Linked DNA regions of Homo sapiens: region 2 is reported to be linked to region 1. Evidence: microRNA targets listed by miRTarBase, many of them from high-throughput screens and not tested one by one. Region 1 holds a microRNA gene; the other region holds the end of a gene's coding sequence.

Region 1 (5,072 bases):
GCTCAAACACAAATTGAATTTCCAAAGCTAGTAGCTCTTTGGGGCTTCAGAACAGATGGATGTGAGCAGCTCTTCTTCATTTACTCTTCTACATGGTAAAGAAATAGGAAAACCTATGTCCATTAGCTTTAGGAATCAATACTCCTTTTCCTGCTGGGAGTTCACTGGCGATACTTTACTCTGAATCTGCTTTTCTTTCCATTAGGTAACTTTGATATTAATACACAATTGAGTTCATTCTTGGCTACTGTAATTACTTTCTAATTTTGTCTAGGCTGTTTTAGAGGAACTTTCCCTCTAAACAAGTCAAAGCTTTTTAAATGTAGTTCAACCATTGGAACCACTTTATGACCTTTGTTACTGTTTTTTACTATGGAGTGGTAAGTAATATACTAAAAACCTTCTGGAGAGTCTACTAGGAAAAAATTCAGTATCAGATCAGTGGTTCCTTTCTAGAAATATTCAAGGAGGCTAAATGAGATTATCTCTGCTAGAGAAGCAAGGTCAGGTAAAACACAGCTTTTAAGACAGGCCACTCCTGGCACAATCCTGGGTCAGTTTTGTCATCAGAGGGTTTGGCTTCATAGCTTTGAACTATGCTTTATGTACACACAAATTCTTTTTCTAGGTATTTATATTCAGCTGCATATGGTTTTTTAATAGGAGTTATTTCTTGGTTATTTGCTGCTTTCAGACCACCCAAATAGAAGAGATCATGATTTGGCCCCATTTCATAGGTGGGAAGGCTGAACAAAGCACTCAGGTTAGTGGCTAGTTGAAGGTCTCACAACAGAAATCAGTGAGAGTCTTTCTTTGGTTTTGTTCTCAAATTTAGGGGCAAATTTTCCTTGATGTTTATTTTTAGTCTCTGCCCTCTTTTCATATCCAGTCTACCCTAAAGCTCTGTTGCACCCTAGCACTTTAATTCAAGTGCCCCTTTGTTCGTCTGCTTTTATTCACCCATATTAATAGTCTTGACGTAGTTGGGGACTTGGATGGGCATATCTTAAAGTAAAATTTAAAAATAAACCTTATTATTCCTTCAGTCTTGGAGGTGGAACATTCCTAGGCCTATGTTGCTTGCTGACTGGTTGTGAGACCTTTGAAGAAGCTCTGGAAATGGCAGCTAAAGGCGACAGCACCAATGTTGATAAACTGGTGAAGGACATTTACGGAGGAGACTATGAACGATTTGGCCTTCAAGGATCTGCTGTAGCATCAAGGTAGAGATTAAGTAGCTAGGAGCAGTAGTGATTAAACACAAGGCAGCCTCTCCACCCTGGCCATTCACTAAGTTGTTTTAAAATGTCAGTCCACCAGCCTGGTGCAGATACCTGTTGTATCAGAGCTCAGACTTGATCTCCTGCCCTTGATGAAGCACTGAGATGTTTAGCTCTTGATGCTTGTTCTTAAAATAAGGCAACTTTGAAAGAAGGTTCTAGAAAACTGCAATAGTTTCACCTGTTCCATTCTTGTCCAGATATCTAGAGGCATTAATTTTCCCCCCCCATTAATGGACATGCTACTTTGTCCCTATTAAGAAAAGGGCGGTCAGCCATGCATACTATAATTCTGTCTGCTTATAAACCATAGTAGCAAAATTGGATCACTTGAGTTTGAACAGTTACTCGTAGAGCCTTCCACAATACTTTGGTGGAAGGATGGGCCCTGCCTGAGGACGATTTTGAACACTCTCGCTGATATTTCCAACATAGCTTTGGCAACATGATGAGTAAAGAAAAGCGAGATTCCATCAGCAAGGAAGACCTCGCCCGGGCCACATTGGTCACCATCACCAACAACATTGGCTCCATTGCTCGGATGTGCGCGTTGAATGAGGTAAGGCCTTACTCAACCCGGTGAAAGCTGTGTGTCATTCATATACATCATCTTGGCAGTGCAACACCTGTTGACTCTTACACAACTACATATCCTTAGGAAAGCTTCCCTTTACTCTAGTCACACTTTACAGAACAGGAGGGGTGTGTGTTGGGGGAGGGGGAGGAATATATGCTTTATTTTTAAGAAGGCACTGGATGATAATGAATGATAAACCATTCACCTGTGGAAACAGGATACAATTACAACCCATGTCATAGTCTCTCTAACCATCATTATTGCCATGTGTCCACTGAAATGTGAGGAAAAGGTCTGAGCATCCTTGCACATAACTGCAGGTAAAATGCTCGACTTGCAATATTCGATATTCTCTCTGCTTTCAGCTTCTTTACAGTGTTGCCTTGTGGCATGGAGTTCAAGCAGCATTGTACAGGGCTATCAAAGCACAGAGAGCTTGCTACAGCCAAGGCCAGCCAGAGTCCCAGGCACAAAAAGGGGTGGAGCTGGTGACATACAAAGTTGTATTAACATGTTTTGAAGCATTGCAAGATTCGTTTGGAAAAAATTGAACCTTTTCTGAAATACAAGGTGTATAAAGTAGAACTCTTCACACTGAGGTATATTAGAAAGACAGGAAAGAGGAGTTGAGGCATGGAACAGGTCATAGGAGAGTATTAAAGAACCACAGTAGATCTGTAATGGAGTTTTTATAAATACAGCTTTTAATAGAGGTGACATACATACAGAAGAAGGCTCAAATTATAAGCTTACAGTTTAATTTACACACACAAGCAACCCTGTATAGCCATCACCCAGATCAAGAAATAGAACATTATAGGTACTCAGAAAGCCCCTTGAGCCCCCTCTCAGTTGAATAGTTGAATGTTAGTGTATGAGGCAGTCTTTATGATACATGGGTGTTAGCCCTGCCTTTGAGTTCTGGGTTGACAAAAAACATACTCTCCTTGCATAACACTGAACAGAGTATGTTACTGGCCTGCAGATCAGCGATATACCTTTTTGGAAGCCCTCAGTTCAGACGGAGTTTAAATGGGAGGCTGATACTCAGAGAAAAGAGCATTCCAGAGATGTTTTTTCAAAGTCCACTTGAGTCATGGGACTCAATGTAACAGAGTTTATTTCTTGACATTAACCTTTAAAGGGAATTTTTCCAAGTAATGAAACAAGCCCCAAGACCAATATGTGTGTAGTTGGCTGTACTCATGGGCTCTCAAAGGTCAGCTGGTAACAACCCTTGCCCCACAGAGCAATAGATGCCCTTTCCCCTACTTTCCGCAGAGCTGGCTTCTTGTGCTTTTTGCTGGAGTGAGCCAGCAGGTCAGCAGGTCTTTTCACAGGCATCAGAATCCCTTTGGGAGAGAGCAACTGACTTTACTTTTCACTTTTGATTTCAATTTCAATATTGTTGATTGGTGGAGTAGAGCGAGTGCCAATTTGAAAATGTAGCCATGTTATACACTGGTTTGAGCAACTATTTTATATGTTTCTGTGGGGCTGAATGAGTGAAGGGAATCACCAGTCGCCTTGGGGCCAAGGCTCTACCAGAGGGTGTCCAGTCAGTGCAGACTCCCAGTGGCCGCACCAGTGACTGGCAGTGTTGCATTTCCCATGAGAGCAGCCACCAAGTCCCTCAGTCCTTGCTTTGCTCTCTGGAGTCACTGATTTGAGAACCTTTGATTGCAGCCATTTCATTGAGGGACACCACGTTTACCAAATCTAAAACATTTTTGCTGTGATTCTTGAGATGCTGTGAAATGCTTCCCCATCAGTTATAAATTTTCTGATTCAAATTTTTGGATAGATAATACAAACACATAATACAGACTTCTAAGACATTAGAAGGATACACAAGGAAGTGAGTCACCATTTCCACTTCTGTCTCTCAGTGTTAACCTCAGTAGAGGCTGCCATTTTTTTTAGGGTTTTTTTGTTTGTTTTTATTGTACGTATTACAATATATCTTTGTTTATATTGTATGTAATGTAGGATACATTTATCTTTCCAAAGGTAGCAAACTCTATATAGCATTCTTTTTACAAAATAATAGCTTTATTGAAATATAATTATATGCTATACAATTCACCCTCCATATACTATTCTATATCTTGCTTTATCAGCTTTTTATTAAGAAAATTCATAAACATATGTAAAGGAGAGAGAACAGTATAAAGAACCTCCATTAATCCATCAGTGCAGATTCTGCAATCATTAAGGCTTCACAACACATGCTTTCTCTATATTTTCTTCTTCCTCCTCCCTCTGGTCCTCTCTCCTTCTTCCCTCTTTTTTGCTAAAATACTAGAAAACAAATCCCAGATATTATATCAATCTACCCTATATATTTTAATAAGCATCTCTAAAAATACTGCCTTTTGCTTTTTGACGTAATAACGCATCTTGAAATTGATCATATCAGTATATTTTAAATTGCTTCATTTTTAATGGCCATATAGCATTTTAACATATAGATATGCTGTTATTGATTTGTTCAATTTCCTAATGATATTTAGGTTTTTCCAGTCTTTTACTATTATTTAAAAATTCAGTGTATTTGTATACGGTATACACACATATATGTACACACATGTATATTATTTTGCCTACATGTGAGTATATCAATAGGATAAATTCCTAGAAGGGAACTTGCTGAGTCATCGGATATGTTGATTGTAATATTAACAGATATAAAGTTCCCTCCATAAAGGTGGTTCTAATTTACATTCCCACCAAGCAGGGTTATAACGGTACAAGTTTCTCCACAGAGTTATCAAACTTTTTGATTTTTTTCAATGTAATAGGTTAAAAATTATACCTTATTTTGGGATTAACTATTAATATTATTTACTCATTACTCTATTGGGTTGTTGGACTTTTTTTCTTGTTGATTTATGGAACTCTTTATTAATTAACAAATCCATTTTATGTGAAATGTACTGATAATATTTTCCATTTATTGCTTCCCGTTTGGATTTGTTTGTGGTGATGTTTTTCCCCGAATAAATTTAACTTTTTAAAGTAAATGTAGCAATTATTTTGAGATGATTTCCTTTATTATGCATTTTCTACTTCAACTTTTTTTTCCAATTCTTCCATATTTTTCCCTATCTCTTTTTCTTTTCTTTCTTTCTTTTTTTTTTTTTCTTTTTTAACATCTTTGACCCACCTGGAATTTATTTGAAACATGGAATGCTCTTCCAGTTTTAATGCCACTT
Region 2 (5,059 bases), not on the chromosome of region 1:
TTTTGTATTTTTAGTAGAGACGGGGTTTCACCGTGTTAGCCAGGATGGTCTCGATCTCCTGACCTCGTGATCCTCCCGCCTCGGCCTCCCAAAGTGCTGGGATTACAGGCGTGAGCCACCGCGCCCGGCCAAAAAAAACATGTTTTTTAAGCATGAAGTTTGGGTTGCACCTCAGTGCCTCCTCTTCCCCCATTGGTACAGAAATGCGCCCATGCTGGTTCCAGCTGGATCAGATCCCCTTCAAGGACATGTGGCCCGACGACAGCTACTGGTTTCCACTCCTGCTTCAGAAGAAGAAATTCCACGGGTACTTCAAGTTCCAGGGTCAGGACACCATCCTGGACTACACACTCCGCGAGGTGGACACGGTCTAGCGGGAGCCCAGGGCAGCCCCTGGGCAGGAGACGTGGCTGCTGAACAGCCGCAAACCATCTTCACCTGGGGGCATTGAGTGGCGCAGAGCCGGGTTTCATCTGGAATTAACTGGATGGAAGGGAAAATAAAGCTATCTAGCGGTGGTTTTTTTTTTTTTTTTTTGGAGATGGAGTCTCTCTCTGTTGCCCAGGCTGGAGTGCAATGGCACGATCTCGGCTCACGTCAACCTCCGCCTCCCAGGTTCAAGCGATCCTCCCATCTCAGCCTCCCGAAGAGGTGGGATTACAGGCGCACATTGCCACACCCAACTAATATTTGTCTGTTTAGTAGAGATGGGGTTTCACCATGTTGACCAGGCTGGTCTTGAACTCCTGACCTCAGGTGATCCACCTGCCTCAGCCTCCCAAAGTGCTGGGATTCCAGGCGTGAGCCACTGCACCCGGCCGGTCTCTAACCTTTCAAACGTTCTTCTCCAGACACCAGCACAGCCTGCCAGGTCCCGTCCACAGGAAGCTACCAGATGTGCTGGGCTTCAGCCCGCACTGCTGCACAGAGGTGGGAGAGGATGGAGACTCTGTCCCCGAGGTGGGCAGCTGGCCCAGGGCAGAGACACACATGCTCAGTGCCACAAGCTGGGGATGTGTCCTCTTAAAACCCCCCTGCACAGTGTGGGAAGCTGAGGCTCGGCCAAGGGCTCTGGGCTAAAACCCAGGTTGAACGCCTCATAGGCTAGTCCCCTCCCCTGCCCAACTTTCATACACGTTTAATAACAGTTGTTCACACATGTTTATTGATAAACCGTCCAAAATGTAGGTCATGTGTAAACAATTCCAGTTGTTGGGTATATTGGGTATTGATCCCTGCAGCCTCCTAAAGTGCTTTGGACATGAACTGACCCGCAAAGCAAGGGCAAAGGCCTCAGATGCACAGAGCTGCCCTGACATCCCTTGGCTCGGAGTCCCTGTGCCCCATGTCAGAGCCCTAAACCTGTCTCCCCTGCCTGCACTGTGTCCGGCAGACAAAGGGCAGCTGTCTGCACGGTGACCCCGAGTACCCAGGACACGGACCACGAGGACCCAATGAAAATGTCCCCTTTCACCATGATCGGCAGCCCCCTTCCCACAGCCCCGCCAGCCCACAACCCCCCTCCCACGGCCCCGCCAGCCGTCCTCACAGGGCAGGCGGCATCTGGCATCTCCACCAGCATCACACGCAGCTGTCCCTGCCAGCTAGGCAAGGCCGTAATGACCGGCACAAGCTTGGGCTTGGGCCGTGGGCAGCAGGAGGGCTGGAGAGGCATGGGGGGAACCCCGCTCTCCCTCCGGCATGGGGCCTCCACCTGCAGCAGTAAGCAGCCTCTCAGCCCCTGAGCCTGGGGACCTGCCCGGGCAGCACAGGGCCAGGGCCAAGAAGTATTTGTGAGAAGGAAGGTGGCCTCCGCCACCCCTGCCTAGCAGGCCTCTTTCTGCTGCCCTTTAGAAGGCACTGGGTGGCAGAGGAGGAAGGGGAGGGAGGTGTTCCAAAGCCAGTGCCCACCCCTCCACAGAGCCAACCCCAGGGCACACAGGAAGCAGCCACCACACGTGGGAGACAGGCTGCCCTCGTCACCGCTGCCCTCCAGCCCCCCCTTCACCCTGCCCTCCTGACCCTCCCACCCCTGCCTTCCTGCCCCCCCACCTCCCTCCTGCCTTCCCACCCCTGCCCTCTTGCTCTCCTCACCCCTGCCCTCTTGCTCTCTCCTCACCCCTGCCCTCCTGCTCCCCCTCACCCCTGCCCTCCCTTACCCGTTCTCCTGCTCCCTCCTCACCCCTGCCCTCCTATTCCCCATCACCCCTACTCTCCTGCTCTCCTCACCCCTGCTCTCCTGCTCTCTCACCCCTGCCCCCTTGCTCTCTCACCCCTGCCCTCCTGTCCCAACGCCTGCCCTCCTGCTCCCCCTCATCCCTCTTCTGCTCCCCCTCACCCCTGCCCTCCCTTACCCCTGTTCTCCTGTTCTCCTGACCCCTGCCCTCCTGCTCCCCCAACTCCTGCCCTCCTGCTCCCTCCTCACCCCTGCCCTCCAGCCTTCCACCTCCATCCTCAGCCTCTGGACATGAGGACCCTGAGACCCTGCTCTTGAAGTTTCCAACACAGGGAGATGCCGCCAGGTATGTGGCCTCTCATACACTCACTGACCCCGGAGTCCCTGCCAGGAAAGCTCCTTCAGAAAAGCTCATTCTGAAGTCTTGCTCAATCCTTGGGGGCTGTCAGGAGCGCGTGCCTTGCCTACTCTGGAGACACAGAGGCCCCAGCACCTGATGCCCTCCACGACTCCCCACAGCCTCTATGGTCCTGCAGCTGGACAGGCCCCAGGAAGGTGCGGGGTGGACGGAGAGGCCTTGCAGCCTTCTGCCCACACGGGGTCACGCTTCATGGCTCGGGTGTCATGGTGCCATTCATGGCAACTGAGAACCTGTCTCTGCAGAGGGGCGTCAGAAGGCAGCGCAGCCCAAGACTCGGGTGGACTAGGGACTCACGGGACAGCCCACCCATCGGGCTCCAAAGGGAACGCTGCCCTCTGCTCATCTGGCCAGAAGGAAGCAGCCCACCTCACAGCAGGAAGGCAGCAGCAGAACCCACAGGGCAGGGCAGGCTGGGCCCGAGCCCCACAGCCACCGAGTCAGCACAGCCCACGGGGCCAGAAGGCACGGCCGTTCCCTCTGGCCGGCTCGCAGTGGACGATGGATCACCTGCCTGCGGGGCACACACAGGAGTCCCCTCTCCATCCCACGGCCGTGAGCTGCCCGTAGGTACAGGCGGAAGGGAAGCACCCTCCGTGAGAGGAGTGAACGCCCCAGAGGCCAGTGAGCATCTGCGGAGCGGAGGGACCTCGGAAACCCTGGAGCCCGGCGGGCCTCTTCCAGCACCCCTCCCCGGCCAGGGAGGGGCGTCAGGCTCCGGAGAAGTGCAGGGGTCCACTGGGCTCCCATGTACCTTCCACAAAAGGGGTTCGGGCAGAAGCAGACCCAGGCCTGAGGCGGACAGTCCAGCCCCACAGAGCTCAGGAGAATGGCCTTCTTCATCCAGAGCAGGGAAGGGGCCTGAAAGACCACTGGTTCCCTCTGTGAGCAGGTGGCTGGGCCGGCAAGTGCGTGACGGGAGGCTGGGAGGAGGGCTCTAGGTGCCTCAGAGAAGGAAATCCACTTAAAAGGGGGCTGTCCCTCCTCTAAAGCCTCAGCTGGAATGGAACACGCCCCCCCACGCCCCCACCTGTCCTCTGCCAGCCCATCCAGCCTCAGTGCCACACGGTGCAGACCCCAACACTGGCCACCAGAAATCAAGGGAGTCCAGGGGACGAGAACACAGCTGCTGTAGCGCCCACTCTCAGAGCCCCAGCTCTCCGTCACGCCTTTGTCTTCCAGGCCTGGGCACACACAGGGTCATGGTGTGGACACAGGCACACATGGGGTCATCATATGGGCACAGGGCATGAGGCCACTGGACCCCACAGGCCACTCCCAGACCAGGGCTCCAGGTGTTGACTGCAGCAATTTCCCTAGAAAATTCACCGTGCGTGCCCCACGCCCAATGGCCCTCCCTCCCAGCCTCAGCACCACTGGCTGTCCCCTCGCTGTCCGTGGTCAGTCCCATGCCTGGGCTGCAGGGCAGCCCTGCCCTCTCTCCTCGGCTGACCGAGCACCATGATGCTGCCCCTCCCGACTGTTCCAGCACCTGGAGGCCCTGCCTCCACGCTCCCCCAGGCACAATCTCTGTGAGATGAGAGATCCCTGCCTCCCCGCACAGCTCTGGGTGTCAGGAGGAAACCATTCCAGAGAACCCCACCACCTCTCTCGACCAGGCTAGCAGGCCACAGGGCGAAGGACAGTGTGGCCCAGCTGCCCCCATGGTCCACGGATGCGCCTCCCGACCCGCAGGCGTGAGCTCCTCTGCTCCAGCTGCAGCACGGGGCGTGGCGGGGAGGGGAGCTGCCGTCCAAAGGGAATTACACCGGGACACACCGTTTGGAAAGAGGTTTTAGTGCGGCCGCAGGGAGCACCACCTCAGCCTCAGGCGCTAGTGAGGACACAGGCCGTCCTCCGGCGGGGAGCACGGTGGGGTCAGGGTGCTGTGTGGTCCCGCAAAGAGGCAGCTGAGCTTGGGCCTCAGGTCGTTCCACACCTTGCTCATCTGAAAGGGAAGCGAAGAGAACAAGATCAGCAGGCGGGGCCGGGGCTCCTCCTCACGCTCTGATCCCAGTTCCTTCGCCTGCCAGTGACAGGGAGGGAGGGGCCCTCAGGTGCGCCAGCTCCTCAAACCTCTGGCAGAACCAGTGCTGCCCATCCTGCACAGAGGAAGCCCAAATGAGGAGTGGACCAGCGACATGTGACCTGTGGTCACAGACACCCACGCTTCGATCCCTGCACCCAGGACCAAAGGGCTGCAAATCTGCCTGCCGTGGAATCGTGAGAAACGTTACTATCGCGTCACTGCCAGTACATGCTCTAGCTGCCGTGCGGGCACTGGCCTCATGGAAGCCTTGGCAGGTCAAACACCAAGGCCAGCCTGGGCAACACACGGACACCCTGTCTCCACAGAAAATCAGAAATATGAGTCGGATGTGGTGGCACCTGCCTGTGGTCCCAGCTACTCGGGAGGTTGAGGCTGCAGTGAGCTGTGATTGCACCACTGCACTCCAGCTTGGGTG

Evidence for each region. Region 1 holds the annotated microRNA hsa-miR-107 (AGCAGCAUUGUACAGGGCUAUCA, at 2,258-2,280, shown strand). A microRNA usually pairs through its seed, bases 2 to 8, with sites in the 3' UTR of a target mRNA and lowers its output. Matches are read on the target gene's strand: a 7mer-m8 pairs with bases 2 to 8, a 7mer-A1 pairs with bases 2 to 7 and ends in A, and an 8mer does both.
Region 2: the mRNA of SNX8 is a reported target of hsa-miR-107. Seed matches in the 3' UTR shown: 7mer-A1 at 4,312-4,318, 7mer-A1 at 3,898-3,904 and 7mer-A1 at 1,716-1,722.

Annotation. Positions count from the first base shown.
Region 1 is chr10:89,589,964-89,595,035 of GRCh38, reverse strand. MIR107 (microRNA 107) reads left to right here and starts at 2,209; the gene lies at 2,209-2,289. It overlaps PANK1 (pantothenate kinase 1), which reads left to right. Exons shown (of 7, transcript NM_148977.3): 4 at 1,047-1,223; 5 at 1,716-1,839.
Region 2 is chr7:2,250,628-2,255,686 of GRCh38, forward strand. It overlaps SNX8 (sorting nexin 8), which reads right to left. Exons shown (of 11, transcript NM_013321.4): 11 at 1,143-4,542. The coding sequence ends at 4,429. It overlaps NUDT1 (nudix hydrolase 1), which reads left to right. Exons shown (of 4, transcript NM_002452.4): 4 at 202-518. The coding sequence ends at 374. Among named protein-coding and RNA genes, the nearest start is that of MIR6836, 4.4 kb to the right of the region's middle. RefSeq lists an enhancer at 1,538-1,887.